Regions from separate parts of the Homo sapiens genome. Here all the other regions are linked to region 4. The links come from fine-mapping of genetic effects on gene expression. A gene starts in region 4. Each other region holds a variant in brackets. All regions are shown on one strand. Distances are from middle to middle.

Region 1 (8,099 bases), 24 kb before region 4:
TCAGCTCTCACGGCCCAGCTACCAGCCAGTCCCAGTGGACAGTTAGGGGCTGGATGCCAGGCACAGAGGAGCCAGCCTGGAAGACCACAAGCCCTTAACTGTGTTGCCCCAAGACATGCGGCCCCAGGGAGCGCAGCCTGTGAGCAGGCACAGCCCCCTGTGCCATCCCCTCCGCCAGGCACCCTGGGGGGCTGTTGTGAGGATCAAGAGATCAGAGTCCCTGTAGGTCCAGGCAGGGAGGGGCTGCAGTAGAGGAGCTTCCATCCAGCTAAGGGACCCTCCTTCCCGGGCAGCTGTTCCAGGGGTGCTGACCCAGCTCACTGAGAGGCCTGGGGCTCAGCTCCTCCCTGCCCTCCTCGCAGCCAAGTTGGCACCTGCAGACCGGGTAACCTGAGCCACTCCTGTGCGCCGGTGCTGCTGCTTTTTTTAAGAAAAGAGGGAGCCCTCCCCTTCAATAATTGATGAAAGATATTAACAATTGAATCCTGGAGAACATCTGGCAGGTAGGGAGCTTCTCACCCGGTCAGCAGCAATCAGATTAAACCAGCTTTGAGAGGCAGGGGCACGCACCAGCTGGGTGGAAGTGGGGCCCGCCCTGGCCAGGCTCTGGGAGAGGAGCTCTGCCCACTCACGACTCCGTGGCCGGTGCCTCCTCCACACGGGGGTGGCCTGGGCCTGGGAACTTCATCAGCAAGGGGGGCTCTGCGGGTCCTGGAGCCAGCCTGGGCTCCTTTCTCCCATGGCGTGCGTGGACTCATACACACGGCCATGCACACACACATTGCACATATCACACATGTACGTATGCATTTGTGCACCCACATATCACATGTGCATGCTTAAACACTGTACCACATGCGTGCACATTTGCTTGCACAGGCATGTGCACTCACCACACAGCACACACGGGTTTGCACACAGCAGGTCGTGCATATACATGCTTACATGCGTGTGCACGTGCACGTGTGCGCACATACCACTCACCCATGCACTTGTGCACGTTTGCACATCACACACACACACATGCACAGATGCACACACACAAGCACATTCACACTGTGCACACACCACACACATGTCCACACTTCCTTACCTGCCACCTCTGCCCTGACTCTGGGGGCCCATTGGAGGCTCCAGGGACCTCAGGGACCTCTTTGGGCTCTGCTCAGAAAGTTCCTTTTGTGGCTCTGCCCTTGGAGGTGGAAAGAAGGACGGCGAAGCCGGAATGCCGGGGGTCCCGCCCAGGTCTTGCATCCTCGTTGTAGAAGCAGCAGCTCTTTCCTTCTAAGGCCTGAGTGAGGAGGGGGTCGGAGGTGCGGGCCTGGTGACCAGGGGTGGCTGCTGGGGCTGGAGTGGCAGCCGGACGGGTCCTCCGATGACTTTTCTTTCTTAGAACCACCTGAGTGTGGAGACAGGCATCGTCTATGAGGCGCTCCCTCAGGCCTCCTCGGGGTGGCTACTCTCAGGACTGAATGAGCTAAGCCTTTTCCCTCACTTTATACTGTTTAAGCCTCACAACCTGTCCTTATTCCATTTTACAGCTGAGAACACTGAGGCCAGGGGTAGGGAAGAACTTGCCCAGTGCTGCCCAGCTCCAAATCAGGTGGCCAGATGTCCACAGCCAAGTTCCCCAAGCCCTCCTGCCACCCACATCCTGACCCCAGGGCTCTGCTCCCCGACATAGTGATAACAGGGCTCCACCAGCCCCCAGGGTGCCGGGAAGCCAGGGCAGCTGGCAAGGTGCAGGTCTCCTGCCCTTCCCCGGCCCACTGGGGGCCCATCTGGATGGTGCTACTCCCTCAAGTAGATTCAGTCCAGCTCTGCCTGGAGGCCCCAAGGGCAGGCAGCCCGAGCAAGGGGCTTCCTAGCAGGTGAGGGAGGCCAAGGTCTCACCTATGGGCTGAGTTGGGGGGAGAGCATCTCAGGCTCCGGAACCTTCCAGGGATTGGGGACTGGGTCCAGGAGTGATGTCTGCAGAGAGGAAATGGAAGAGGATCCCAAAGCCAGGCAGCCCCCACTGCGTGGAGGACGAGGAAGGGGAGGAGGGGAGAGAGGAGTGGGTGGGTTTGCCCCTCCAGCCCCGGGAGCCTTGGGTGGGTGACGCATAAACAATTTCTGCCCGGAGCAGACGCTGTCTGGGAGCCTGGAACGGCACCCCTGCTTTCCCTGCCCCTCTCCAAGTCCCAGCCATGGGCCACTCACACATGTAGGTCACTCTTCAGTGGGTCCCATGGGACCCGTCCAGGTGCCAGCCTCCCAGCTCCTGTGATGGTGCCCCTTCCAGGTATGCCCCCCAAATGCCCTGCCCCCAACCAGAGTCAATGATTTCCTCCTTACAGAAACACAGCTGCAGAATCCCTCAATCGTGCTTAAGCTACTGGGCTTTGGAGGACGAGGACTCTTGGGCACATTGGCCTGCTGGAGGGTCTCTGCTGCCCTTGGCCTTGGCAGAGCTGCCTGGGCCTTCTGAGCAGGTGGGCCGCCAGGCCCTGAGCATTCCTGAGAACGCTGACCCCTGGGGAAATGGCGGGCAGAGAGGATCCGAGAGGCACGCGTCTGTGTCGCAACCAGGACTGGAGCCTGCATCTTTCCCACAGGTGCCTTCTGGGGCCTCAGTATTCCCATCTGTCCAGTGGGGCTGGAGTCCCCCAAACACCTTCTTACAAAATGCTTTTGTAATGCTCGATCCACACAGCATCCCCAGGACGTGGGGCGGCACTGGACTGGAGGTCCCGGGATTTTACCTCCTCCAGTCCTTGCCATTGTCCTGGCCTCCACAGTAGAGCTCAGGCCCGTTGTGTGGATGAGAAAATCAAGACCTGGGAGCAGAAGCCTCTTGCCTGACCTACTGTGTTTGTAAGTGGTGGGCTGGGCTGCAGAGCTGGACCCACAGGGCCCGGAGTGGGTGGCGGGTGACATGTGCTTGTGCTTCGGGGGAACCCAGGCAGAGCCGTTCCCAAGAGCTAAGTGTGGGGGGCCAAGGTCTTTGTCACCACCTCCCACAGCCGAAAGTCTAATGGTGAAACACTAATTTGCAAATAGCATCCAGCCCTCCGGCTGCTGGCCCAGACTTGGAGATGGAGCCGTGACCCAGCAGAGGGAAGTCTTGCGTTCCCCATTCCTTGGACGTGTCACCCTCTGCAGAGCGCACAGCCAGGGAGCCCATGTGGGTGGGTAGGACGTGGAGACTCTGCCCTGGACCCTGGCAGTGCCCTTCTCAACAGCCTCTCCACCCACCTGCCAGCCTCTCTCCAGACCTGCAGGAGATACCACCTCAGGGCCTGACCACGTGTGCACTGCAGAGCCGGCCAGGGGGCTGTTCCTGACTCCTCCAGGGGCCTAAGTGTCCCAGCAGTCAAATTCTGCCAGCCCAGAGGCATGGACCCAGTGCACCTAGGGGGAAACTGAGGCACAAGAAGATTAAATCATATGCTCTATGATCCTGCCCAAGTCAGGATGGGGTGACCAGGGTGTCCCTGGAGCTGCCTAAATGCTAGCAGGGAGAGGGGTGAGGTGGGGGGCTGGGCTGCAGAAATGGGTGGGCCTCCGGGGAGCAGGGATTCCAGCTGCTGGGGGCCAGTGCAATCCAGAGACTGGGCTGAGGGAGCAGGCGAAAAGCCCAGTGCCCCCTCCCCGGCATGCACAGGCTTCCCAGGCCAAGGTCAACCCAGA[C/G]CCCCTGGAGGTAGCTGGGCTGGCCCCAGTGGGCACAGAAGTCCTGCTGTCCCTGTAACTGGTCCCAGCTGGTTTTAAAACCTTCCCAAGTGTGAGCAGTGGGGATGGGAACCCTCATCCTGGCTTCTTGGATGAATGCCATCAGGGTGAGGAGCTTGGGTTGGGCCTCTGGGGAGGGGCAATAAAGGGCTCCCTCCAGGGAGGCTGCAGGCCTGGCCTGGGGACCTCGGTGCAGGGGGTGGGGGTTCTTGCTGGTTCCTCACCCTCCCGGAAGCACAGGGGCAGATCCGGGAGGTCAAGGGAGGGCGAGGCCTCCACTCCCCACCCCGGCCCCCGGCCAGCTCTGCTCCTCCTCTCCCCCACTCCTGGGGGTCCTGTTGACTTGGAGGACTTGGATGGGGAGAACTGAGAGCCTTGAGTGTCCCTTGAGCGCCCCCTGGTTTCACAACCACAAGCCTGGAACCCTAGGAGGGCGGGAGACTTGTTCCAGGTCTCACGGGAAGAGGCAGAGCCAGGACTCCCTGTCCAGGACCTTGCCTCAGTTTCCCCTTCCACTGGATAAACTGGGGCCCCTGCCACCCCAGGACCTCTGGGAGACCTTGGGGATCGCAAAGGCAGCCGCCCTGGGCAGCCCGCAGGAGGGCACGGGAGGAGTGTCCCCCAGGCCATGGGGCACGGACTGACCTGTGGCCCAGCCCACCAGCCAGGAATGGGGACCGTCCTGGCGGCTTGGGCTGGGGGCCTCAGCACCTGCGTGCTCCGAGAGGTCCTCCACATCTGCATCCATGCCCAGGGTCGGGACCCCTCCTTGCCTCAGAGCCCGGCCAACCTCAGAGGCCGCCTGGGACACATGGAAACAGATGAATCATAAGTTTTAAATTTTTCCAGTTTTACAACCTGGAGACAGGCTTTTAAACAGCCTCACCAGCCAGAGGGTGGGGGTCTCGCTTTAGGAGGGACGCGGCCGCCCTGAGCAGGTGGGGTATGCTTGCCCCCACCCCCACCCAGGGATCCTTCCCGAGCCCCCGGGGAGCCTCTGGCCATGAGCGATGATGCGGAGAACCCAGGGGACTGTCCCTTCGGCTCGTAGAATAGGGATTCTGGCCCATGAGCATTGATCTCTCTGAGTTTTTAAAGGAAATTTTATTTGTTTGGGGTTTCTAGTCATTAAGTTAAAACCAGTAAAATAGAGCAAAATCAATACCTGTAGGACCCAGCACAACCAGTCTGCATTACGATGCTAAATAGGCTGAGTAAATGGTGAGCCAGGGTTAGGCTGGGGGAAGGGCCTGGCAAGTGTGGGAGCCTGGGGAGTGTGGGGAGGTTGGGGAGGGAGGGAGCCCCAGGAGGTGGAGAGGGAGCCCTGGGAGGGAGAGTGGGGTCCTGCGGGCTTCTCCTGAGCTCGAGGGGAGCTGCGAGGACTGCAGGGGCCAGTGCTGGTGGAGGCATCGGCTTTGGGGCAGAAATGGTGATCTCGAAGTCCAGAGGGTCTCAAGCCTCCCTGCTGCCCCTCACACCCTCTGCCCTTTGAACCCCAGAAGCATGCAGGGACCCTAAGCTCCCTGGATGTGCCAGCTCTGCAGAGGGTGCCGACTGCTCTAGGCCTTGCCTCCTTCTCAGTGATGCCTGACGTGGTAGTGGCAGGAGGAGGCCCTGCCCCGGGTAGGTGCTGCCAGCCTCCCACTGTGAGCCTGCCCTGGGCCCCGTCCCCACGAGTCTCCCAGAGGTGGCGTTGCTGTCCGGTCTGCAGGGAGGGCGGGCCCTGGGCTGTAGGCTTCTTGAGGCGGGCACTGGTCACAGCTGGGACTAGGTGAGAGCAGAATTAAGCTTTGGAGAATGGCTGGGACTGCAGTTGCTGCCTTGGAAAGCTCCAGAATGCTCTAGAAAGCTCGCTATGCTGCCAGGAGGCCAGAGCTGGGCAGGAGCTGAGGGTGAGCAGCCTCCGGGTTGGGGTGGGCAGAGACAAGGGAGCTCTGCCGGGGTGGGATGGGCTTAGCAGGGAAGGAAGCTGGCTCGCTGGCTCGGTGCTGGGCGCCATGAGTTTCCAGAAGCTTCTTGTCTTGGGGGAGCCACACGTGTGCCTCAGCCAATAGGGCCTGGCTGGAAAATCCACAGCTTCTGGTCTCTAGCGCTCAGCCCCTCACAAGATAGGGAATGACGGGGCAGGCGGCCTGCACTTAGCCTCTATATTTTATTTATTTATTTTGAATTTTTATTCATTTTTATTGCTTTTTGAGACGGAGTCCCCCTCTGTTGCCCAGGCTAGAGTGCGCAATCTCGGCTCACTGCAACCTCCGCCACCCAGGTTCAATCAATTCTCCTGCCTCAGCCTCCCGAGTAGCTGGGACTACAAGCATGCACCAACACGCCCAGTTAGTTTTTGTATTTTTAGTAAAGACAGGGTTTCGCCATGTTGGCTAGACTGGTCTCAAACTCCTGACCTCAGGTGATCAGCCCACCTCGGCCTCCCAAAGTGCTGGGATTACAGGTGTGAGCCACTGCACCCAGCTGACCTCTATATTTTAAATAATAGCTTTATTGAGATAGAACTCACATCGCATCCAATTTATCCAGTTAGAGCGTATGATTCAATGGCTTTCTGTATACTCACGGATGTGTGCAACTATCAACACAGTCAATTTTGGAACATTTTCTTCACTTCAGAAAGAAACCCCAGGAAATTCTGGCACGAGCTACGATGGGGACGTGCCTGGAGGATGTTGTGCTCAGGGAAAGCAGCCAGCCATGAAAAGGCAAGGCCTGCCTGATTCCTCCTCCGAGAGGCCCTGGAGACAGACAGCAGAGGCGTGTACGCCAGGGGCGGGGGGAGGGGGTGGGAACAGAGCTTCAGTTTGGAAAGAGGGAAAGCTGTGTCGATGGAGGAAGATGTTGTTTGCACAGCAACGTGAATGCACTTAATGCCACTGAGGCGTGCGGTTCAGAATCGTGAGGATGGAGTGATGGTTAATTTCATGTGTCAACTTGACTTGGCTGCTGGGTTCCCAGATATCTGTTCGAACATTTGGCTGGGTGCAGTGGCTCATGCCTGTAATGCCAACGCTTTGGGAGGCCGAGGCCAGAGGATCGCTTGAGCCCAGGAGTTTGAGACTAGCCTGGGCAACACAGTGAGACCCGGTCTCTACAAAAATAAATAAATTAGGCTGGCCACAATGGCTCACCCTGTAATTCCAGCACTTTGGGAGGTCGGGGCAGGTGGATGACTTGAGGCCAGGAGTTCGAGACCAGCCTGGCCAACATGGTTAAACCCCGCCTCTACTAAAAAATACAAAAATTAGCCGGGCCTGGTGGTGCACACCTGTAATCCCAGCTACTCGGGAGGCTGAGGCACGAGAATCACTTGAAGCTGGGAGGCGGAGGGTACAGTCAGCTGAGTTCGTGCCACTGCATTCCCGTCTGGGTGACAGAGTGAGACTCTGTCTCAAAAAATAAATAAATAATAAATAAGCTGGGCATGGTGGTGTGCACCTGTAGTCTCAGCTACTTGAGGCTGAGGTGGGAGGGACACATAAGCCCAGGAGTTCGAGGCTGCAGTGAGCCGAGATCACGCCACTCATTCCTTTTTTTTTTAGGCCCACATCACAGTTCCCTCAATAGATCTATTGTTTATCCACTCACCCATCCATGGGCCTTGGGGCTGTTTCCACATTTTGGCTTTTGTGAGTAACGCTGCTGTGGACATTCCTGTGCAAGTTCTTGCAGGTGCCTGCTTTCATTTTTTTGGGTTTGAACCCAGGAATTGGATTGCTTGGTCACATGGTAACTGTGCTTCAGAGTCTGAAGAACCACCAGAGTGTTTTCGCAAAGCTCAACCATTATTCCATTCTATTCTATTCTATTCTATTCTATTCTATTCTATTCTATTCTATTCTATTTTAATTTTTAGTCAAGTCTTGCTCTGTCACCCAGGCTGGAGTGCAGTGGCTCGATCTCAGCTCACTGCAACCTCTGCCTCCCAGGTTCAAGCAATTCTCCTGACTCAGCCTTCTGAGTAGCTGGAACTACAGGCATGCACCACTATGCCCAGCTCATTTTTGTATTTTTAGTAGAGACGGGCTTTCACCATGTTGGCCAGGCTGGTCTTGAACTCCTGACCTCAGGTGATCCACCCGCCTCAGCCTCCCAAAGTGCTGGGATTACAGGTGTGAGCCACCGCACTCAGCCCTTACCTCTATTCTATTGATTGATTGATTGATTTTTTTTTTTTTTTTTTTTTGGTAAGAGATAGAGTCTCACTCTGTCATCCAGGCTAGAGTACAGTGGTGTGATCACAGCTCACCACAGGCTTGAACTACTGGGTTCAAATGATTCTCCCACCTCAGCCTCCTGAGTAGCTAGGACTACAGGCACGCACCACCACAACTGGCTAATTTTTTTTACATTATTTTTTGTAGAGATGGAGTCTCGCT
Region 2 (8,099 bases), 43 kb after region 4:
AGAACCTGGGTTGGGTTTTGGATGCCCTGAGAGGTGGCATCCCATGTAGGGGCAGCGAAGGGGCCTGGGCTCAGAGAAGGAGAGCACAGAGATGGGTGCGGGGGCCCTGCTGGGATGAGGCTGTACAGGCTGGGGGTGCAGTACCGCTCTGGCACCATCCCTGGTGTGGCGTGGCTACAGGGCCCTGCCAGGAGGCCCTTGTGGTCAAACCGTTGGCTTTTGTGGGGCACAGTGGCATGGGCTTTGGCTGGCAGCCACGCCCGGGGTAGGGACTGTGTGTCTCTGCCAGCTGGGCCATGACTACAGTGGGTGGCCAAGGGTGTGGGCTATCAGGTCAGCCCCAGGCCTGGCCCAGGCAGCCCCATGGCCAGCAGAGCCCATCTGTAGCTCTCCAGGAGGGCCGCCTCTCCCTGGGGAACAGCTCCAAAAGCTTTCCTTGGGGAACAGGTGGCAGGGCTAGCGGCTCCTTCCACAGCACGGCTGTGGCCTGGCCCCTGGGGCCTTGGGGTCCTGGAAAGTTGAGACTTCCCCGGCTGCTGCCTGTCCTGGTGGCCTGAAATCTTACAGGCTTCAAGATTTCGTAACTTTCCTATTCCTAGTCGCAGAATGGGTAGTGGGAGGCCTGAGACCCATCTGGCTTCTGCAGCCACGCTCCAGGGCTCTGGTGACCCTGGAGTGCATTCGGGGAGTGCCGGCCACGGCAGGGCCCCAGGAAGGAGCTCTGGGGGGCCTCTGGCCTCTCTTCTGCCCTCGGTTGAGGGCCAAGTGGCCTTTCCACTCAGTGAGTCAGCCTGTTCCTTCGTGTCATTCTCAGCAGGCCATGGGGTGCCCATGCCTGCGGGTGAGGAGGGGCTTGCTGCCCCACCTGCTGGCGTCCAGCCTGTACAGCCTGGGGCCTGTCTGGAGATCCTGGTTCCTTGGCTGCACCTGCAGGGCCCCCGGAGTCCACGCATTGGCTTCTGCAGTTGGCATCCTGTGCTTGTAGGAGTGTCTCCTGCCTGGAAGCCAGAGGATGGCACCCCGTTCCATCAGGCCTGAAGGTGGCTGGGTGCCAGGCAGCCCTTCCTGGGTGTGGGACTCTGGGCAAGTGCCCTGCCTCTCCCTGGTCTCCCCCTCAGCTCAGAGAGTGCAGTTCCCACCCTGGGAGGATGTCTGCACCTTGCAGCCTCTTCAGCCCTTAGCCCTCTTGGCAAGAGCTCAAGCTTTCTCTTGTTAAGGACGGGACGCACAGACATACGTGAGTAGATTTCAGGTTACGTGCCCTAAACTAATACCGTGTGCACTTAAAAAAAAAAAAAAGAAGAAGCTATGATTGAAGTCAAATTAACATATTTACCTTCAGTGCTCCCTCGGGAACCGTTAGGGAATCGGAGAGGGGCGGCGGCGGCGCGGCATCATGCCGGCGACGGTGCTAAGGGCATCTGCTCCCCGTGGGGATGGGTGTGTGCTCCTGAGTTTGCCTTGGCTTCCCCTGCTTACCCACAAGGTCGCCTGGACAAGGGGCGAGAGGCCCTGCCCTGAGAGCCTCAGTTCCTGGAGGGGACCACGCTGGGGGTGCTTACTGGGGACCAGGATGCGGCGGTGGCTGTGGTGCCACACTCGTGATGACAGCCCTGCCTGAGGGGCTCGCTTTGCTCAGCTCTGATGTGGCTGAGATTCAGGTGCCTGACCTGTCCCCCAGCCATTCCCACGCCCCTTTCTGTCCCGATGTCGGGGCTGGGCTGGCCCCTCTTGCCTCGCACAGGTTTATGGCCTAGGAGTACATTCCCCTGGAGTCCCGTCTATGCATCCAGGTACGGTTCCAGGGCCAGTGAGCGGGCCACGTCCCACCTCCAAGCCTCAGTTTTCTCATCTGTACAGTAGGGTAATGGTATTTCTCCTGCGCTTACTTTAAGGATTAAATGGAAAAACCTGTATTAAGGATTGCCATTTAAAGATTAAATGGAAAAGCCTGGGCCTTTAGTTCCTGAAATGAGAGAGCCAGAATTATTTGGAGAACCTGCCCCCAGATGTGCCTGTCCCCCTCATGAATTCTGCATTCCGAGGGACTGAGCTTCGTGGAATTCTGGCGTCTTCTGGCCTGCAGGCGAGTGGGGCTGGCCACAAGGTTGCGGGGGGTGGGGGTCCTGGGGACCCCTGCCAGGTGGTGGGTATGCACCCGGCCTTGGGGATGAGGGTTTGAGTGGGTGCCTGGTCCATCCCACTCTCTACCACTGTGTCTGTAAACTCGTGCATGGATTGTTTAAAGATAGTACGGCAAACCTCGTGATTATAAAAGTATGATTGGGCCGGACGCGGTGGCTCATGCCTATAATCCCAGCACTTTGGGAGGCCGAGGCGGGTGGATCACGAGGTCAGGAGTTTGAGACCAGCCTGGCTAACATGGTGAAACCCCGTCTCTACTAAAAAGAAGTACAAAAAAACCCAAAACAAAACTATGATTGGACTGATATTATTTACGTGGTTTTCACTCCCAAAGGCACACCTTTGCGTATAAAGCACAAGTCAGTATTCATCACTGATTCCTTATTCACTTTTCAAACTACTTTCACTTACCTTTTATTACTTTATAAATAATTTTAAGCACAATTTTGTTGCCCCCTTGCCTGCTCCCCGGTGTGGGGGTGGCCAGAGTCCTTGGGGTCCCCTCGCATTTCCCGGGTGACCACACAGCTGCCCCCTGCTCAGGTGTCACCGCCTGGGGACCTTCTCCTCTGTGAAGGGCCTGTTCTGGGCTCTTGCCCCTCCCTCCTCTGTGCGTTTCCCTTTTCTTGATGGATTTGTAGAATTTGTAGAATTCTTTCCATACTCTGACCACACGCCCTTTGCTGAAGATACATATGTTGCAAAGGTCTGTCCTTCTCGGCTTGTTTTTTCTCTTAGTGTTGGTCTTTATTTTTCAATATTTTAATGAAGCACGACTTATCAACAATGTCCTTTGTGCCCTGTTAGGGTTTTTGTTGTTTGTTTGTTTGTTTTGCCAAAGGCCATGTTTCTCTTCTGCTTTTTTTGTTTTGTTTTGTTTTTTGAGACGGAGTCTTGCTCTGTCGCCCAGGCTGGAGTGCAATGGCGCAATCTTGGCTCACTGCAACCTCCACCTCCGGGTTCAAGCAATTCTCCTGCCTCAGCCTCCCAAGTGGCTGGGACTACAGGCGCCCGCCACCACGCCCAGCTAATTTTTGTTTGTTTTTTTCTCTGTCACCCAGGCTGGAGTGTAGTGGCGCAATCTCGGCTCACTGCAACCTCCACCTCCGGGTTCAAGCGATTCTCCTGCCTCAGCCTCCCAAGTGGCTGGGACTACAGGCGCCCGCCACCACACCCGGCTATTTTATTTATTTATTTATTTATTTTTGAGACAGAGTCTCGCTCTGTCGCCCAGGCTGGAGTGCAGTGGCGCGATCTCGGCTCACTGCAGGC[C/T]CTGCCTCCTGGGTTCACGCCATTCTCCGCCTAGTCCCAAGTAGCTGGGACTACAGGCGCCCGCCACCACGCCCGGCTAATTTTTTTTGTATTTTTAGTAGAGAAGGGGTTTCACCGTGTTAGCCAGGATGGTCTCGATCTCCTGACCTCATGATCCACCCACCTCAGCCTCCCAAAGTGCTGAGATTACAGGCATGAGCCACCACCAGGCCAATACATTTTTTAAAAATTGTAGTCAAATATACACAACATGAAATTCACCATTTTAACCATTTTTTAAGCGCACAGTTCAGTGGCAGTAAGAACATTCCCATGGCTGTCAACCCTCACCTCTGTTTGCAGAACGTTTTCATCATCCCTGACCGAAACTGCACCCATTGAACACCAACTCCCCTCCGCAGTCCCCCAGCCCCTGGAAACCTCCGTTCTGCTTCCTGTCTCTGAACTGTCCTGCTCTGTGCCCGCGTGTGAGTGGAACCCCGTGGCGTTGTCTGTGTGTGCCTGGTGGCTTTCACTCGGCATAGTGTCTTTGAGGTTCACCGGGCTGGGGGGTGCATCAGAATTTCATTTCATTTTTGTCGTGGTATGGGCAGGAAACCTGGCTCAGAGAACATTTGAGGAACTGGGTGTTTAGAGTCACTGAGGAGAGGAGGCTGGATAGATTGTTGGGTTAGTTACAGCACTTCTTCGAGTTCCGCAGGGCCGGGAAACGCTGCCCCTTGGGGTTCTCTTTGCTACTGGATGGAAATCATTTGCTTTTCTTTTGGTTGCATATAGGAGACTTAGGATGTCACGGGGTATGGGGTGTCATCACTACTGAGTTGCAAATCAGGCAGAGGCCGCGAAGGGTGCCTGTTTACTTTATTTCCAAGTTTTCGATGACTGTTCTTTGCAGGATCTCTTCGTGACCACACGTAACCTTCATGCAGGGCTTTGAGAAGCGGGTGTCTCGGAGTTTTGTCACAGATGCAGCAGAGGAGTGGGCAGCAGCCCCAGGGCCACAGGCACTGAGCACATGGAGGGCTGCGGGGCTGCTCCTGGGCGCTTTGTAGGAAAGCCTGGGTTCCGTTTTCAGCAGCCTCTCACTCCAGAGGAGATGACTTTGCTCTTATTGAATCTTGTGTCCCGAGCCTCAGAGCCCAAACCCAAGACCCCTGTCTCTGAGGTTTCACCGACAGGGCCTGTGGGTGTTGGGTGGGTCTCCTCCCCTGGGCGCAGTCTGCACGGGGGTGTCCTCCCCGCGTGTGGAAGACCGGGCACAGGGAGCTCAGGACAGCATCAGCACAGGTTTCCTGAGGGGGCCCTGCAGGCTCTGCTCCCGCAGGACCTGCGACCCCGAACCCTGAATGTGGGCCTATGCCCGATAAAAGAAGATGCGTCCTCAGGCACGACAGCCTGGGCTTGGCCCCAGCTGCGCGATCTGTTTGAGAAACTGTACCGCGATGTAGGAGACGGCAGGTTCACACGGAGCCGCTGCCGACGTCTACGAAAGGGAAACAGGCTCGGGGAGACATTCGCCTCCGAGTTCCAAGCCCGGGGAGAGTGGACACCCTGTAATGAGCGCTTCAGTCAGTTCGCAGCAGCCAGCCTCGGGGGAGCTAGGGAGGGCTTTCCCCCCAAGTATCCCAGCCAGGCGGCCGCAGCCAGCTCTCCCTCATCCCGGTCAGTGCCGGACTGGACCAGAATGTGTCCTGGAGTCCTGGCCACCTCCCTGGTGCCATGTGACAGCTGTCTGAGGCCAAGTCTGTGTGTGGGGGGCGTTGCAGCCTGCTGCACCCACACCTGGGGCTCCCCACTTCCTGGCCTGCCGCTTTGAGGGAGCAGAAGCCGCCATTGAGGACAAGGTGGAATCGGCTCATTTCACGCAGAACCAAGAGCGTCGGCCTGGAGGAGGTCACGTCCTCTACTGGGCCTCACGTCACTGTTTCGTGAGGATCCGATTGCTGTTCCCCCAGCCCCATACGCGACAGTGAGTGGGGGACAGAGCTCCCGGGCTCCCAGAAGGAGGCCGTGCGAGAACCCATTCCCGCCAGCATCCCCCGGCCCTGCCGACTCCGCCTCGGCTGGGAAGGCCACGCTTCCTGCCGCTCTGTGTGAGGTGTAGACGCCGAGGCTGAGTGATACATCCCCGAGCCCCGCAGGTGAGCTGGGAACAGAATGTGACCACCGACATGGGCCCTCTGGGAGTCACAGGGGATGGTCGTTCGGAAGGTCCAGCTTCATCTGTCGGTGCAGTTTAGGGTGTGACTTGGTGGAGGCACGGTCAGTATTGAGTCAATGTTGAACCAGAGATAGGTTCCTTGAGGAAGGCAGGCAGCCTTGCTGTGACAGAACGAGGAATGGTTTTGACCTGTCCGTCTGTGTTAATTGAAGGGATGATACATAATTTTAAATAACCTCAGAAATTATTAACATCTTTATAAAGAACCTTAATGTTTCTGGAATGAAGAACTTTGTTTTCTTTTTCTTCTTTTTTCTTTTTTTTTTTGAGACGGAGTCTTGCTCTGTCGCCCGGGCTGGAGTGCAGTGGCACAACCTCGGCTCACTGCAAGCTCCGCCTCCCGGGTTCACTCCATTCTCCTGCCTCAGCCTCCCGAGTAGCTGGGACTACAGGCGCCCACCACCATGCCCGGCTAATTTTTTTGTATTTTATTAGTAGAGACGGGGTTTCACCGTGTTAGCCAGGATGGTCTGGATCTCCTGACCTCGTGATCTGCCCTCCTCGGCCTCCCAAAGTGCTGGGATTACAGGCATGAGCCACCGCGCCTGGCCATGCCTGGCTAATTTTTTAACAAATTATTTGTGGAGACTATAATCTTACCATCTCTCCTGGTCTCTCACTCCTGGACTCAAGTGATCCTTCTGCTTCAGCCTCCCAAAGTGCTGGGATTCCAGGCATGAGCCACTGTGCCCGGCCAAGATCTTAATTTTTTTAAAAAAATAGTCAAGGACATGACGGAGTCTGTGCAAATCCCTGTTGGTTACTTCGGTGAGAGCCAGGGTCTGCTTTCAGGGCAGAGGGAAGGATCACCGCTTACTGCTGACCCTGCTTCTGGGCAGACCAGATACTCCAAGACCAGGCAGCATTTTAGCAGACAGAACACCAAATCCTGCTTGGACGCAAATGCAGTACTTGGCAGTAGAGGATGCATAAGCACCTTTAAAACAATTAGGAATAGACCCATTGAAACTGAGCAAATTGTGCCAAAATTGTAGCACACACGCAGCTGCTTTTCATACTCCTTATTTCCAGGTATTATGAACCGAGGGAAATCAAGTCGACTTTCTGCAAACATTCTTGGGTTGTCCATACATCCACTGGAGTCTTTTGTCTTTTCCTGTTCTCTTTGGCATTCGAGACCAATTGTGCATTTCACTTTGAGACAAGCGCCTCTTCTCCCCTGATGGGCAGGACTATACTCTGATACAGCTGGATCCACGCTCACACCCCCTGTCCACTGCAGCTCCTACTGGGGTCCTCATTTTTTATTTTTTATTAAAAATTTTTTTTTTGAGACAGTCTTGCTCTGTCACCCAGGCTGGAGTGCAGCGGTAAGACCACAGCTCACTGCAGCCTTCACCTCCTAGGCTCAAGCGATCCTCCCACCTCAGTCTCCCAAGTAGCTGGGACCACAGGTGCGCTCCACCATGCCCAGCTAGTTTATTTTTATTTTTTGTACAGACAGAGTCTCCCTATGTTGCCTAGGCTGGTTTTGGACTCTTGGGCTCAAGTGATCCTCCCACCCCAGCCTCCCGTGTAGCTGAGACTACAAGCACGTGCCACCATACCCGGCCAATTAATTCTTTATGTAGCCTAGATATTAGTCCTTTGTTAAATGTGTTCCTGGCATGTTTTTTCTACCAGCCTGTGTCTTGTCTTTTCATCCCATTACCTGTGTCTTGTGCTGAGCAAAAGTTTTTAAATTTTGATAAAGTCCAGTTTATCAGTTTTTTTCTTTTATGGAAGAACTCTCTGCCTAGCCCCGGATTCTACAAATATTTTATTCTCTTGTGTGTTTTTTTCTTTCCCCTCTAGTTTTATGTTTAAGTCTCCAATTCATTTTGGGGTTATTTATTTATTTATTTATTTGAGACGGAGTTTCACTCTTGTTGCCCAGGCTGGAGTGCAATGGCATGATCTAGGCTCACCACAGCCTCCGCCTCCTGAGTTCAAGTGGTTCTCCTGCCTCAGCCTCCCAAGTAGCTGGGATTATAGGCATGTACCACATTCAGCTAATTTTTTGTATTTTTAGTAGAAACAGGGTTTCTCCATGTTGGTCAGGCTGGTCTTGAACTCCTGACCTCAGGTGATCCGCCCGCCTCGGCATCCCAAAGTGCTGGGATTACAGGCATAAGCCACCACACCCAGCCTTTTTTTTCTTTTCTTTTCTTTTTTGAGACAGAGTCTTGCCCTGTTGTGCAGGCTGGATTGCAGTGGTGTGATCTTGGCTCACTGCAATCTCTGCCTTCTGGGTTCAAGCAATTCTTGTGCCTCAGCCTCTCAAGTAGCTGGGATTATAGGTGTACACCAGCACGCCCGGCTAATTTTGTATTTTCATTAGCGACAGGATTTCACTGTGTTGGCCATTCTGATCTCAAACTCCTGGCCTCAAGTGATCTGCTCACCGTGGCCTCCCAATGTGCTGGGATTACAGACATGAGCCACCATGCCCTGCCTTTGG
Region 3 (8,099 bases), 40 kb before region 4:
CTAAACACCCAATTAAAAGGCAGTGATTGCTATTCAGTCATAAAAAAAATGGAATTTTGACACATACTACAACATGAATAAACCTTGAGGACATTTGTTGAGTGAAATAAACCTGTCACAAAAAGACAAATACTGTGTGATTCCACGTACATGAGGTATCTAGAGGAATCAAAATCATAGAGACAGAAAGCAGAACAGTGGTTATTAGGAACTGGGAAAGGAGAGAATGGGGCTTTCGTGTGATGATCACAGGGTTTAGTTTGGGGGATAAAAAGTGTTGAAAATAGTGGTAGTAGTTGCACAAAAATGTGAAGGTATTAAATGCCACTGAATTACACACTTAAAAAGGTTAAAATGGCAAATGTTATGTTATATATGTTTTGCCTCAATTTTTAAAAATTAATGTAATATATCAAAACCCACTGAATTACACAATTTAAATGGGTGAATTATACGGTATGAGAATTATAACTCAATCAAGCTGTTTTTTAAAGTCAATGATTGTTAGAATCTTTTTTTTTTTTTTGAGATGGAGGCTCACTCTGTCACCCAGGCCGGAGTGCAGTGGTGTGATCTTGGCTCACTGCAACTTCTGTCTCCCAGGTTCAAGTGATTCTCCTGCCTCAGCCTCCTGAGTAGCTGGGACTACAGGTGCGAGCCACCACACCCGGCTAATTTTTTTTTTTTTTGAGACAGAGTCTCACTCTGTCGCCCAGGCTGGAATGCAGTGGCCTGATCTCGGCTCACTGCAAGCTCCACCTCCCGGGTTCACGCCATTCTCCTGCCTCAGCCTCCCGAGTAGCTGGGACTACAGGCACCCACCACCACGCCCGGCTAATTTTTTGTATTTTTAGCAGAGACAGGGTTTCACCATGTTAGCCAGGATGGTCTCAATCTCCTGACCTCGTGATACGCCCATCTCGGCCTCCCAAAGTGCTGGGATTACAGGCGGTGAGCCACCGCGCCCAGCCAATTTTTGTTTTTTTAGTAGAGATGGGGTTTCACCATATTGGCCAGGCTGTTCTCAAACTCCTGACCTCAGCCTCCCAAAATGCTGGGATTACAGGCATGAGCCACTGGACCTGGCCAGAATCTATTTTAAAAATCATCCAGTAGGCACTGTGTACCAGGCACTGTTCTAGACACTGAAGATTGAGCAGGGAACAAAAGCCAGCTTGGCCCTTCTAGAGCCCACCTGCTGGAGGTGGGATGGGCAATAAGCAGGGAATGGAAGGGAGGGAGGGAGGGGGCTCCCTGGAGGGCTGGGTGGGCCTCGCTAAATGGGACCCTATGACTAGGAGGGACCCCATGGGCACCAGGGAGAGACAGGGCAGCCAAGGGGGCCTCCAGGCAGAGGCTGCTGGGCTGGCACCTGCATGGACATGTCATTTATAAAGAAATAGCATCCCAGACTGGCATGGTGGCTCACGCTGGTAATCCTGGCACTTTGAGAGGCCGAGGTGGGTCAGTCGCTTGAGCCCAGGATTTCAGGACCAGCCTGGACCACATGGCAATACCTCAAGTCTATGAAAAATACAGAAATAGCCGGTGTGGTGGCTCCTGCCTGTAGTCCCAGCTAATCAGGAGGCTGAGGTGGGAGGATCGCTTGAGCCCAGGAGGTGGAGGTTGCAGTGAGCCGTGATCACACCTCTGCACTCTAGCCTGAGCGACAGAGCCAGACCCTGTTTCCAAAGAAAGGGAAGGGAAAGGGAGGGAAGGGGCAAGGAGGGGAGGGAAGGGACAGCATCCCCAAAAGGTCTGGAGAAAAGCGAAACCACTCAGGGTTTTATGCTACAGCCCATCCCCTGAGTTTCTGTAGCTGTGACAAATATATTTTTGAAAAAGAGAAGGAGTATTGAATAACTTGGGAAAATGTCTGTTGCATTTGGGTAAAAAAACGGGAGTTTTTTTACACTGCCAGTGTCAATGTGTGCCAAAGCACAGCAAGCGCGCACACACCACATATGCACACATGCCATGTACACACACACAGGTGCACATAACATCACATACACTCATGTACAGACACACATACCACGCACACCACACACATATGCACACACCCACACACATATGCACACACACATGCACACACACATATGCACACACACACATACATCTGTCATCTCCCCTGCAGATGAGGGGTTGAGGCCCGGGCAATGTGACGACCACTTGCCCAGGACTGGTAGAACTCTGTGGTGCCCTCTGGGGCAGTCCCCTCCCACCAGGCTGCCTCCTGATGGTTTCTCCCATGGTTGACTCGGCCCCAGAGGTCTGGTGACATCTCCCTCTCACCATGCTGAGTTCCTCGGATGACTGCAGCTGTGGCTGAGCAGTGAGGCCCCTGCCCAGGACCCTGGCCTGGCCCAGACTGTGTCCCCATGTCAGGGCATGTAAACAGCAAGGGCTTGGCCCGTGCCCTCAATGCTCTGAGCCCGCTGTCTCAGGAACAAATTAGAATCTCACTCGAATCCTCATAAATCTTCCATTCCTGACAAATCCAAAGGAAGATGGGGGAGAGGGGCAGGGGGGAGGGGAAGGAGCCAGGGTCCCTCGCTAATTTCTCCAAACTGCTGTTTATTGAAATGAGACACCAGGGATAAGCAAGAGCTGGATCAATAAAGGCCTGTCTAATACAATCAGCCGGGGCCGCCAGCTTCCCGCCCCTCCTTCCAGGGAACACCAGAGGCGAGGGGCCTGAGGAGCGCAGCCCAGGCCTCCCCGCTCCTGGGAACCTCCCCTCCCACACTGCCCTGTAGAAGCCGTTCACCTGCAGACACAGCCCACATCATGTTCCTGCAGCTGCTTCTCCAAGGCTGCCCCTCAGCTGGCCCGGCCTTCCCTGCAGGTGTCTGCTCCCTAGGGAGAGCCATAGGGGCCGGCTCATGGAGAGCAGGGCCCCACCCAGGCCCTCCCACTCCTGCAGTCTCCAAGCCTCACCCCTGCAGTGACCAGGCAGCCCCAGTGCAGCCACCACGCCACCCTCCCAACATGCCCCACACACTCCAGCTTCCTGGGCCCGGCCTCCTCGGACCAAGGCCTGGCACCTTGCTGTGCTGGGGTCCCTCAAGCAGTGGCTTTTCCTGAGTCATTCCGCCCACCTGCCTCCAGTCCGGTCCCGGGAATAACTGGCCACTCCTCTTTCTGGGTAACTGTGAGTCCTAGACTGGGGCCTGGGCTCTGAGTGGCCCCCTCCCCGACACATGAGCTCTTGGGGGCAGGACGGCCAACTCGGTGCTGAGTTCTTGGAAGGGGTTTTCATTTTAATTAGGTAACCAGAGGCTGATGGGGTCTTCCAGGGCTGGGATCTCCATCGGCTGCCTGCGGTGGAATCACCGACACAGGCTTCACGCAGCCCAGGCCTCGTGCACATTCTGACCCCGCTGTTTCCAGGCCGTGGTCCCACACTGGCGAAGACCCTGGGGCAGCCAGTTCAGGCTCCTGTTTTGCGGAGAGGGGCAGCAGGAATGGGGCAAATAGCACCCCCGGCAGGTGCTCACGTCTCTGTGAAGTGGATTTGACATTCTCGGGTGCACCAGGCCCTGACCGCCTGGTCATATCCAGGCCTCTGACACCTGCAGCAGGTTCCGCTGAGGGACCCTGGCAACCCTGAACCCGTCTCTGCGGATCTGGAGAGCCAACAGCAAGCTTTCAGGGTTCAGTCGCCCCTCAGACCAGGTTCGAAGACTTGAGGTCACCTAGGCTCCAGCTTCCTAGGGTGACAGACCCCCGCTGCCCCAGCCTGCCCCCCACTTTCCCAATGAGGGTCCTGTTTTCTGAGCATCCCCCTTTCGCCTTCAAAGTTGACATTTGAAAATAGCTGATTGATGACCTCAGTAAGCCCCGAATGAGTGTTTTCGAGAAAGCTTTCCCCATTTCCAGCCATCAGCTGTGGAATATTACAGGTGGGAGGAGAACCGGAAAGCCCCACAGTGCGGCCATAGGTGATGTACGGCAGCAAACATCGCTGCGGAATTAATCAATTGTTTGAAAAATAGGCCTGCGTGTGCGTGTGGCCAGCTCCACCACGGCTCTACAGACGGGCCCGGTCCATCGTCTGCAAGGCAAGGGAAATAGATCTCCTCACGGTGGCCATGTCCCTGCCAGCCCAGGTGTGCAAATGTCCC[T/C]GAAATACACCAAGGGAGGTACATTTCATTACAGAGCTGATCGGCCTTGAATCACAGAGCCCTTGGCCATTGATGGTCTTCTGGGAGAGGCCAGTGGGTAAATGGTAGGGAAGCCATTCCATACCTTCTCTCATGCACACGTTTTGGTGATGGCTGGATTAGGACCGGCTGCTGCGGTGCATGGGGTGAGGGTGGGGGATCACCGGTGCTATGTAACAGGCAGCTTTGGGAAAGGGATCAGGAAGTTTCATGTCAATCAACCAATCAATCAATCAATTAACAAATGCATTGCCAAGCTTGACTGGAGCTTAAGGTTCAGGACATCACTTGTGCTGACCTTGATGGGTGAACTTTGGGAGGTTTATCATCTCTTTCCAGAAGGCTCCAAGACAAATGTATGCATTCAGCTTTGTCAGGGTACTTGGTTAGGGAGTGAATGCACAAACGCCCAAGGAGGCCAGTGTTCAACGGCCTCACAGGTAAGGGACGGGACAGCCCTACTTCCCGGCTGCACAAGCAGAAAGAAATGGGTTGAGTCCCTGGCTGTGCTTCTCCCACAGGGCTGCATGCACCTGCTCTGACAGATGGAGGCTTTTCCTGGAGTTATCTGGCCCAGAGCAAGGTGTGCCTGTGTCACCCTGCAGGGACACAGCAGCAGAGCAGCCAGCAGTGAGGCATGAGGCCTGGCCCTCACCCATCACAGGGTGGCCACCCAGCATCTCTGGCCCTTTCTTCCTCCAGGAAACGCCTTCCCCATGGCAGGTCACCCATGCTTTCCTCCCTGGGGCCACAGGACAATGCTGCTGGAGACACGCAGTGACCCTCAAGAAACAGACCCTGGAGGGAAAGGTCCCTGGGCCATGAGGAGATGCTGAGCAGCCACCTCCAGGCCTCTCTTCCTGGAAGCCTGGGCCCAGCACCCCTCACTTGGGGCTCCTGCTACAGGAGCCACATCCCTGGAAAACCTGGCAGCTGCCACAGGAACAAAGCAACCTCAGGGGACAGCACTCTGTACCCTTGCTCCCAAGGTCTTTTGTCCACGAGTGGCCCTGTGGCCCTGCCAGTGTCCCCGGGGCTGCCACAGGGCCCTGAAGGCTGCAGCCCACAGGGGAACTGCAGAGACTCCCGGCAGGTGGGACCCCGTGGAGCCACCTGGAGCCGCTGGGGACGTTGCTCCCAGGGAGACCTTTGGTGGCTCACGGGTTGAAGGGGCAGCATTGTACCTGCAGAAAGCTCCAGGCACTGGGAGGCACGACCTCTCCCACGTGGGACGGCTGCCTCCTGCCCTTGCCCTGGAAACCCCAACTTAGTAGGCCTGGGGAGGAGCAGAGTGTCTGGGTGTCGTGAAAGCCCCCGGCAGGGCTGGCCTCAGAGGAAGGAGCTCTGACCTGGCCTCGGCCCTCGGAGCTCATAGCTCTGTCCCCACCCTCTCCACAGTGGCTGGAGTCCTGGGCTTGTGTCCACACCTTCCACCAAAGCCAAGCCCACCCTGGGTTCAGCTCCACTTCTGACTGGAGAGACCCTCCCCTCTGGCCCCAGCTCCCCCCTCTGTAGGGTGAGGGGTTGGGATGCCCCTCTCTGGTTCTGTTGTACTGACATGAATCTCTGATTGAAACATTGCTCGGCATATCTGGTGGGGAGGAAATGATACGGTTTCCTGCAAGCCCAGCTGAGAGATGATGCGATGTTTTTCTTGGATGCTTGGTTTTTAAAAAGTCCCTGATAAGGGACAAGCTAATTGGGAATTCTTGAAGAGAGGAGGGCTGGGGGCATGGGAGGCGGCCACGCTGGGAGCCGACCCCCGTCAGCCATCAGTTGAGAAAAGACTCTCTCTAAGTAGACCAGCCAATACCAAGTGGGGGAGCCCCCAGCAGGTGCCCTGACAAAGAGGGGGCCCCCACCACGAGCAGGCCCAGGGCTCCTAAATGGGGACGGGTTGGGGGGAGAACAGGGGCTAAAAGGAAATCAAAAGCAAATTATTTTCGGGATTATAGCTCTTGAGCCCCAGCGAGATATTACCCATTTTTCATAGCAGACAAAACCATTTTCCAAGGGATCAATTTTGCCTGCGGAAGTCGCCTTCCTCCAGCCCATAATCCATCATATTTCCCCATTTGCAATTTCTTGGTGTCTGAGTGTTTTAAGTTTCCTATGAATTATTTTATAAAGCTTTCTTTCTTCCTGCTGAAATGAGGTGTTCCGGCCCTGCTGGGAGGGCCCAACAACATTGAATGGGGGACTAAGGGGCCAGCAGTGTCCCGGCAGGGACGTGGCTGGACAGCTCGGGGTGGACTTGGTCAGAGCCAGCCCTGGTGGCCCCCAGACCACCCCCAGCTCAGAGTCGGCCTCCTGGGACACAGGGAGGCGTCCAGTGGGGACGGCGGCAGAGGGTCCCAGCCCCGCCAGCCGGAAGGGACGCAGGTGGGCTTGGCCCTGGTGAGTTCGGGGGAGGCCACCAGCCACTCGGGGCCCCGGGGGGAGGTGGGCTCAGGGGAAAGTTTTTGAGGAGATTTATTCTGATGCTCTGCTGAGGGGGACTCATCCTTCAAGAGGCAGCGTGTGTAAAAATTCCCCGGCCTGTTGATTGGTCTGTCACGGTGATTTGTGGCTCTTCCCCCGAGGTAATGGGAGCCACTGGGCTGGTGAAAGGCAGCCGGACAGATTGCTGAACAGAGCGGGCGGGAGGCCGCACAGCCGGCGAGATTTATTGACCTCAACCCACGGAGGCCCCTCCAAGGCTTTCAATCCCGCCTTTCAGCCGTCACCCCGGCGATGGCCGCCCGGCGGGCTCCTGGAGCCCCACAGCACAGGGCACCAGACAAGGGTGCCGAACCCCGGGGGGCCGCGCCATCTGTCCCCCCAGGAGGAGGAGAGGGCTCCATCCTCTGCTGCCCCGATTCACTGTTTGCTGGGGCTGCTGCTTTTTCGAACAATAGCTTTATTGAGATGTAATTCACATATTGTACAAGTCACTCACCTGCAGTGTACCGTTCAGAATATGCGAGAACAGTGGGGTGTTTTGTGTATTCGCAGAGCTGTGCAGCCGTCAGCACAGTCCATCTTAGAACATTTTCATCACCTCAAAAAGAAAGGCTGCCAGGTGTGGCGGCTCACACCTGTAATCCCAGCAGTGTGGGAGGCCGAGGTGGGCGGATCACCTGAGGTCGGGAGTTCGAGACCAGCCTGACCAACATGGAGAAACCCCATCTCTACTAAAAATACAAAATTAGTCAGGTGTGGTGGCAGGTGCCTGTAATCCCGGCTACTCAGGAGGCTGAGGCAGGAGAATCGCTTGAACATGGGAAGCAGAGGTTGCAATGAGCCCAGATTACACCACTGCACTCCAGCCTGGGTGACAGAGCAAGACTCCATCTCAAAAAAAAAGAAAGCCTATGTCCTCAGTCACCTCCCCAGCCCCCCACGCCAGCCCTGGCAACCTTGAATCTACTATCCGTCCCTACAGGTGTCTCTGTTCTAGGCTCTGCCTGTGAATGGAATCCCATAACGTGGTCTTTGTGCCTGGCTTCTTGCCCTCGGCCTGACGCTCCCAGGCTCGCCGTGTTTTCCCGTGTGTCAGCGCTGCGTCCTTTTTAAGCCTAAATTATACCCCATGGCGCAGTTAGACCGCTTGTTAATCCACCCGTCTGCCGGAGGACACCTGGGCTGTTTCCACCTTTTGGCTGCTGTAAATGATGCTGCTGTGACCGTGAGCTGGGCGTGTCTCTGTGGGGCCTGCCTTCATTCTCTCGGGGCTGTGTGGTCACCCCGTGTTTAACGGAGCAGTTTGAGGAGCAGGAGCTGGGCGCGTCTCTGTGGGGCCTGCCTTCAATCTCTCGGGTAGTCCCTGGAAGGGAGTTTCTGGGCTGTGTGGTCACCCGTGTTTAAAAGAGCAGTTGAGGAAACTGATGGATTGTTGACTGCTGGCCACTTCCATTTCATTTTCCACTTTTCCCTGGTTATCAGAGTCAGACG
Region 4 (8,099 bases):
TCCAGCTTGGGGGCTCTGCGTCGGCAGCGAGCACCACATTCGGCCCCAACTTAAAGTCTCCCACAGACCTGGAGCCGCTGGGTCCCTCCTGCGCTTGGCGGCACCACAGGCACCAGCCCAGCAGATGGCGCCAAGCCACTGTCCACAGCGCAGCAGGAGGCCTGACGGGGACAGGGACGGGGACAGGGAGGCTATGGGGACCCCGGCTGGACCTCACACGTCAGGACAAACCCGTGACAAATCCCCAGCACACGGTGGTTCTGGGGTGACCGAGCTGTGGCCAGGCCGGGGGCGCAGGAAGGCGCAGAACCCGGGAGTGGGCAGAGGACCAGAAGCAGCTGCGGCCGGGGAGGAAATCGGTGTCCTGGGAAGCTACTTGCGCTGTGCACGCATGGACTGGGTCACGAGGCCAAAACCCACGGTGGCCACGGCAAGAGAGCCCTGGGCCAGCGGAGACACAGGCCACCAACAGGCGGGGGTGGCTTTGTGTGAGGAGGAAGGGGAGGCAGGAGACAGGGGACAGGGGGTGTGACGGAAGGGGCAGCCCAAGATTGAAGGCGCCTCCCAGAGATGGGGCATTCGAGCTGGGTCCTGAAGGGCGAGTAGGAGCTCGGAAGATGGAGAAGGGACAGAGAGAGAGAAAAGGCAACTGTAAAGAGGTCCAGGCTCCTGCCCTGTACCCTGGTTTCACAGGGAGGTAGGGGAGGCTGGCGGTTCTGGAGGGTCAGCCAGGGAAGGGCGACCCCCACTGTCTTCTGTGAAGGGTGCCAAGGGGTGGCCTCAAGGACAGCGTCCAGCCACGAACACAACCAAGATCAGAACCCACACCCGGGGCACAGACGCTTCCACGTGTGTGGAGCTTACAGATTCTCCAAACCGAAATTCAAGGCAGACAGATGGGACTTGCCCTATAACCCAAGGCACATGAAGCGTTTCCCCGACCATGGCGCCTCTGCTGAAGTCAAGTAATAAACAACTCCGCACTTAAATACTCATTCTCCTGGAAAGGGCAACCAGGGCTCCCCCTTACTGTCCCCTCACCCCAAACCCCAAGTGATATCCCAGCCTTGGAAGCAATGGGCAGCAGCAGCAGGGTTAGCCCGGGAAGCCACCCTCACAGCTAGAGTGGTCATCCCCATCCATGGGCGAGCAGAGACTGGCGGGGCAGGTGGCTGACCAGAGAGTGTGGAACCATCAACACAGACAAGGCGACAAGGGGACAGCTGCACCCTTTGGGAATTCAGGACACAGAACCCTCCTGTAGGGAGAAGCACGTGACTGCGGGCCCAGCCTGAGGTAGTGGCGAGTGGGGGCCCCAGCTTTCCTGGAGATTCTAATACAGGAACATGTTTCAGGACACTCGGGCTGACATGCACTTCTTTTTATTTGTCCAAATCCGGCTTTTTTTTGTTTGTTCATGCTGAAAAAATAAAATCAGAAAGTACAGAAATGTTAAAAAAACAGTAAAATATATTCATCTCTTTAATCCCACCACACATAGATCACCTCTGCAAACATTTATCTGCTTCCAGGACTTCACCCAGAAACGGACACCTAGGAGTACGTCTGTGCTGATGAGGGGTCACACTAGACGTGACTTTGTGAACCACTTTTTTTTTCTTTTTTTTCTTTGTTTTGCGACAGTCTCACTCCGTTGCCCAGGCTGGAGTGCAGTGGCGCAATCTCCGCTCACTGCAAGCTCCGCCTCCTGGGTTCATGCCATTCTCCTGCCTCAGCCTCCCCAGTAGCTGGGACTACAGGCGCCCGCCACCACGTCCAGCTATTTTTTTTTTTTTTTGTAGTTTTTTAGTAGAGACGGGGTTTCACTGTGTTAGCCAGGATGGTCTTGATCTCCTGACCTTGAGATCTGCCCACCTTGGCCTCCCAAAGTGCTGTGATTACAGGCGTGAGCCACCATGACCGGCCTATGAACCACTTTTGACTCAGCCTGGGGGACTGTCTTCTGGGCACAGCTGGCAGTGGGTTCACCTGACCCTGTTTAGCAGCAGAAGCTTCAAGGCCTGTTCCTAATTTTGTATTTTCTTAAGGAAGGTCCCTTAAACCACAGAAGCCTCAGGCCCCACAAAACCTGCATCCGCCCCTGGCTGCAGGACACTCCAGGGTCTGGATGCAGCCAGGGCCAGCCACAGCCTCACTAGCTGACCGCACCTTTAAAAGTACGCGCATTGGCAGCTTTGTTCTGACGGCCACACCCCCCAAGAGACCTCCTTGGCCTTTGGCTTGGGTGATGCTGACCCACATGGAGGGGTCTCTGGCCCAGCAGTCCTGGGACATCCCCTGTATGAAGACCATATGTCTGACATGGCACTTGCCACCCTTTCTGGTCATTTGCCCCTCAGCCTGTCCCTGTCACAAGATGACAGGTGCCTCGAGGGTGGGGGCTCTGCTGTGCCTGTGTCCTTGGTACCCAGAGCAGGGTAGCAGCGTGGGGGCAAGTGCAGGCACGCATGCTGTGCTTCTCTGGGCGGGTGCACAGTGGGAAGCAGGGGGTGTCTAATCCAGAGCTGGAGTCAGGGGACTGCAGGGCAGGGAGGACACGGGAAACCCACAGCAAGGAGCGGGGCTGTGGCTCTGCTCCTCCCATGGCACAGCCACCAGATGGGCCAGGTGTGAGCCCTGATCCATGGACATGCGACCACCCTCACCAGCACGCGAAAAGTCGAGTGACGGGTGACCACCTGCTTTACACGCCACCCTCTATCTGGCCACGGGCGCCATCTCACGGTGCCGGCGTCCCAGCACGAGCCACATGGGAGGGGAGAATTATCTTTGGTTAGTTTGTCTCTAATAGTCCTTAAAACAGAAGACAAAAAATGAAGACAGGCATCAAGATGCTATTATCTCAATGTTTATATATTTAAAATGTTTTATTTATTTTTGTGGAGGCCATGTTGCCAGCCAGGTCGCCCAGGCTAGTCTTAAAACTCCTGGGCACAAGAGATCTGAGGCCGGAATGACAGGTGTGAGCCACCACGCCCAGCCTTATCTCAATAGCTAAACGTGTGGATCTGCCTCACATCTGGAGAGGCAGAGAGGTGAGCCACCAACAGGACTATTGAGGAAGGAAGGAGACCTGTTTATTGATTTTAAGTTTTTTGTAGAGACAGGGGCCTCACTATGTTGCCCAGGCTGGTCTCAAACTTCTGGGGCAAGTGATCCCCCTGCCTTGGCCTCCCAAAGCGGTGGAATGACAGGCGTGAACTAGCGCTTCTTGCCTGACACGTTTCTTTCGGAATATTTGCCGCCAGCCATCGGTAAAGAAAACAGGCTCTTGGCCTTTTTTGCTGTGCTACCTCCTGGTGGCCTTTGCTCGTCCAGATGTTCCTCGAACTCCTGCTCATGTCGGGTAAAGGCGGCTCTCTCTCCTGTGGCGGGGATGGGGCCACAGTGGAGAAGGTAGCTGTGCCAGCCCTCAGGGCGGCCCTGGTCCAAAGGACAGGGGCCCAGGAGCCAGCTCGCCGTCCCGGGAGGCCTGCAGCCAATGACGGGCCTGGTGGGCAGGAGGGCCCAGCCCCCTTGTTCCAGTGCCTTGAATTTGAAGGGCCACCCACTTTACGGTCGCCCCAGGGGCTGCTGACCCTGCCTTCCCCTCCTACCCAGCAGCCACACCCAGGAGCGCTCCCCAACACATTCCTCGCTGGAAACCCCCAGGACAACCGCCAGCCTGTACGAACCAGGCGTGAGGACACTAACACAAGTCCCCTTCCTTCACTGGGGGGCGGCGGGGGGGCGGCCCTGGGGCTGCTGCTGGGCCTGCTCGTGCTCCGGGGCTGTCCCTACTTCGGCTGCCGACGTCGCCGCCGGCCCACCGGGCCTCGCAGCTACACACCCGATCCGTGCCGCCCGGGTCCGCGTGGCGTCAGCCGCCCCCACCCTTCCCCGCCCTCCTGGAGCCTGGGGGGCGCCCTCATTCCCGCCGCCGCCCTGTCCTCCCAGCCCCAGGCCGCGCAGGAGGCCTTCGCACACGGCCCCGCGAGGACCAGACCTGCTCCCGGTCCCTGGGCCGCCCACCCCCGCCGGGAAAGCGGCTTCCTCCGGGGCCCGGCCCCACCCCAGCGACGGCAGCAGCGCGCCGGGTCGCAGACACCTCAGTCCGGGGCCAGGACCACGGTCAAGCCCTCTGCTGGGGCCAAAGGACTGCTCCACGGAAGCGCGCCTGCGCACTGCCTCTCCACGGGATGCGGTAGCGCGTGCGCGGAGGCGCGGCCCAGGAACGGCAAGCGCAGGCGCAGAAGACCAGGCGCGGCACCGAGGGCGTTCGGGGGAGGGAACGCTACGGACTGCTCGCAGCGTGCGCACGCACGCACGCACGCACGCCCTCGGGAAGCGACGAGTCCGGGACGCCCAGCGCGGGCCCGGAGCAGGGGGAAGGGAAGTGCGGCTCGGTCGGCGCGGGTGGAGGGGGCGTGAGGCCGCCCTACGGTGGCCGTCGAGGGACGGCGCTACGGCTCCCACGCTAGGCCAAACGCCTCCGGCGGCCGCGCCCGAGAGCCCCTTCACCTGCAGGGCGACCCCAGCCGGCGACGCGTGAACCACGCCCTCAGCCGCCTTGCCAGCGCCCCCAGCCGCGCGCCCCAGCACCATGCGGCCGCCCTGCGCACGGAGCCCCGAGGGACAGGGGCACCCGCAGGCCCGGCCCCTAGCACCGCCGGCCGGCCCCGAGGTCCGGGACGCCGGCGCCGCCGCGGAGAGGGCACCGGGTGAGCTGCGGTCGGGGACCCGGCCTAGGCGGGGGCCGTCTCCAGGGCAACGCGCGGCGCGGGACCCGGAAGTGGCTCCGGCAGGGGCTCTGCAGCCAGGGGGCCCGGCGCGGCGCGGCGCAGGCCCGGTGCTCACGCGGAGTTGGCCGGGGCCCGTTGCGTCTCTGCGGCCCCGAGGAAACAGTCCTGGGTCCATGGGCCGGGCCGAGCGGGCGTCTGCAGAAACGCAGGGACCCGGATGGAGCCGCGGGCCGCGAGACCCTGCGGGGACACAGCTCCGCCGAGTCGCGTTTGAGTGGCACCGCCATGGCCGGGGTCCCGGCCGGGGCGAGCTCCAGGCCAAGGCCGGCCTTAAATAGGGCCGCTCTGGCCCCTGCACCCCGTGGAGGAGCCGGGCGGAGGGAGAGGGCGAGGTCGGGCCCCTGCGGGCACGGGAGGGTCAGGCGGCCCCGGCCCCTCCCTCCTCCGCCCTGGCCAGGTCCCCACGGCAGGGCCCCAGGCTGAATCTGAAGGCAGGCGAAGCTCTTGGCAACAGTCCCCTGTAATGTTACCAACTTTCCTGCTCAGATTTTATTTCCTGACCTTTGAGTTCATTCCGTCTACAGATTATTTCGGCAAGGTATAAACGGCCTTTACTAGGTGAAGCTGGAGAGCCAAATGCCGCCTCTGCTCTTTGCAGCCCAGTCTGTAAGGGCCGCTGCCAGGCCCCGGGCCGACCCCACTGTGCACGCCAGGCCCAGCCCCTTCCCTCCCACAGCTACCCACAAAGGCAGTGCTATTGGCACCCCCATTGGACAGAGCAGGAGCCGTCTTGGGGTCAGGTGACCTGCCCAAAGTCACTGCTAGGGAAGGACAGTGCCAGGGTTCAGGCCCAGCAAGGTGACCCCACGGCCCCCGAGCCGTCCATCTGGCACCCAGCAGGTTGCTGGAGTCACCTGCTCCCGCCGGGCTCGTTTTCGGTTCACCTGCGAGCCCTGGAGTCCCTTTTCCCGGCCCTGTGGTGGCTTCTTGCAGATGCCATTTAAGGGCTTGCATCAGCCCTGGGTCAGGCAGCCGCAGAAGACCAGGGCAGTAACGGGCAAACTGCCTAAGAGCAGAGTGTGGTCCAGCTAGTGGGGAGCTGCGAGGATCCTGCAGGAAAGAGCCACTCTTGCCCCTTCCCATCCGTTTTGGCATTGACCACTTCCGGGGGCCTCCCCTGGCCACTGTCCCCAAGGCCCCCTTTCCCCAGTGCTGCCCTAGAACAAGCACTTTGGCTTCCCCAGGTGGTGGGCCCCTTGGAAGTATCCTTGGGAGGGTTTGTGGAAAAGAGCCCAGGAGTGCCTGCAGATCCCGCCCTGGACTCCATTTTCCCGTAGTCCTGGTGCTGGAGTTTGTGTCCACTTTCGCCAGCTGATTGCCTGGGGAGGGATCCGCATGGTGTCCTCATACTGACGTGGGTTTTGCGGCTCTCCCCGCAGGCCGACGCCTCCCCCCAGGGTCAGCTGCGGGCTCCCAGGCCTAGGCGCCCATGACCCCTACGCCAACAGCCGCCTGGACACCGCCGCCGCCACTGCGACCTAGCGCCGCCGCCGCCGGGGCCCAATGCCGGTCATGCCCATTCCGCGGCGGGTGCGCTCCTTCCACGGCCCGCACACCACCTGCCTGCATGCGGCCTGCGGGCCCGTGCGCGCCTCCCACCTGGCCCGCACCAAGTACAACAACTTCGACGTGTACATCAAGACGCGCTGGCTGTACGGCTTCATCCGCTTCCTACTCTACTTTAGCTGCAGCCTGTTCACTGCGGCGCTCTGGGGTGCGCTGGCCGCCCTCTTCTGCCTACAGTACCTGGGCGTTCGCGTCCTGCTGCGCTTCCAGCGCAAGCTGTCGGTGCTGCTGCTGCTGCTGGGCCGCCGGCGCGTGGACTTCCGCCTGGTGAACGAGCTGCTCGTCTATGGCATCCACGTCACCATGCTGCTGGTCGGGGGCCTGGGCTGGTGCTTCATGGTCTTCGTGGACATGTGAGGGCCGTGGGTGCGAGCTTGATGTATCGTCCCGGCCTGTGGCTGTGTTCTCTCCATGGGTGGGGTCGGCCAGCGCCTTCCCTTCGCCCATCCCCCAGGCAGTCGCTGCTGCCCGGCGCCCACGGAGAGAAAAGAAAGGGCTGAGACTTCTGTGATGGGGGCGCGGACACCACCCCTAGGCTGGCTTCCTGGACCCACCCTCCCCGTATGCACTCTCAGGGGCAGCGCCCACCTGCCGGTGGCTCCTGCTCACATGTCTTCGGGTCGTACTGCGGGGTGGGCCCTCCGTTCCGCCTCTCTGTGGGCCTCTCTCCAGGACCACAGCTGCCAGGGACTTTAGACATCACCCTGGGAGGCCCCTGGACACAGAGGGCTGTGTGCCCAGGAGCAATTCCGGAGGGGGGCCCTCCTGGCTGCACAGCCCCTTCTGCGTGCCCTGGCCCCAGCCCCAGCCAACGGGACACGGAAGGCTCCCCTCGCTGACACACCACACTGCCACAAAGCTGCTTACTCTGCCCTGGGCCGCCTGAGGCCTGGCACTGCCCGCGGACCACCCTGTGTGTGTCATCCTGAGGGGCTGTGTGGGTCCTGAGTCCCCAGCCAGCCTTCAGGGTCCCCTTGGATTGTGTAGATGCAGTCTAGCGGGGGGCCGGAGAAGGGCTCAGGTGGGAGGGGCCTCAGCAGGCTCCCAGCTCAGGGGCTGGCCTGGGGGGAACCCTGGGAGCCAGGGGCTGACTCCAGCAACACTGGCCTGTCTGCCTGTTCTGGGAGGGCTGTGAGGATGTCTTGCAGATGCTCTGGATTTCTGCGGAGGCACCTCCATTCCTTTCTGGCTTTTTTTGCGGGGGAGGGCTTTGGGCCTCTTTCTTTGAGGGAACACCGTCAAAGAAAGCCTGGGAGATCGAGGCTTCAGTGAGCCAGGATGGAAACGCGTGTCCCAAGTGTCCGGAGCAGGCGGCAGAGGCCTCAGTGCGGCAAACACAGCCCCAGAGCCTGTGTGGCACCAGCAGCATCTTAGAGCCCCAGGTATATGCTGAGATCTTATCTCACGCTGTCCTCCAGTGTCTGGGGGGCCCAAATGATGGCACAGGGGCAGGTGGGCTGGAGGGGCGCAGATGCCTGTGTTCAGGGAGGGTGGCCACCATGGGCCGAGGTCTCACCCAGGACCCCTTGCTCTGCTCCTCAGCCTTGCAGTCACGGCAGCACTATGGTGGACTGCCCATGGCCGTGTGACTTTGGGGGCAAGTGGGAGGGCGCCCTGAATAATGATTGCAAGGACAACAGGCAGAGGCTACCCTAGAGCAGGACACAGGGTGTGGTACTGACAACCCTAGTGTCACCTCAAATCCATGTCCCCACACTCTGGGCATGGGTG

Evidence for each region.
Region 1: its variant is fine-mapped to the expression of TMEM250 in whole blood (TOPMed, PIP above 0.99).
Region 2: its variant is fine-mapped to the expression of TMEM250 in whole blood (TOPMed, PIP 0.99).
Region 3: its variant is fine-mapped to the expression of TMEM250 in whole blood (INTERVAL, PIP 0.99).

The regions. Positions count from the first base shown.
Region 1 is chr9:136,139,480-136,147,578 of GRCh38, reverse strand. No RefSeq gene overlaps it. Among named protein-coding and RNA genes, the nearest start is that of TMEM250, 25 kb to the right of the region's middle. RefSeq lists an enhancer at 1-779 and a silencer at 2,062-2,374. The variant C/G (reference allele first, on the strand shown) is at 3,673.
Region 2 is chr9:136,072,259-136,080,357 of GRCh38, reverse strand. All of the region lies in intron 1 of NACC2 (NACC family member 2), which reads left to right. Among named protein-coding and RNA genes, the nearest start is that of NACC2, 19 kb to the left of the region's middle. RefSeq lists an enhancer at 4,972-5,722. The variant C/T (reference allele first, on the strand shown) is at 3,418.
Region 3 is chr9:136,155,357-136,163,455 of GRCh38, reverse strand. No RefSeq gene overlaps it. Among named protein-coding and RNA genes, the nearest start is that of TMEM250, 41 kb to the right of the region's middle. RefSeq lists an enhancer at 6,443-6,943. The variant T/C (reference allele first, on the strand shown) is at 4,128.
Region 4 is chr9:136,115,107-136,123,205 of GRCh38, reverse strand. It overlaps TMEM250 (transmembrane protein 250), which reads left to right and starts at 4,331. Exons shown (of 2, transcript NM_152833.3): 1 at 4,331-4,721; 2 at 6,182-8,099. The coding sequence starts at 6,306. The coding sequence ends at 6,725. LOC107987142 (a long non-coding RNA gene) reads right to left here and starts at 5,414. Exons shown (of 2, transcript NR_165242.1): 1 at 5,304-5,414; 2 at 1-1,420. RefSeq lists enhancers at 2,929-3,503, 3,504-4,080, 5,234-5,809, 5,810-6,385 and silencers at 3,748-4,137, 4,168-5,217.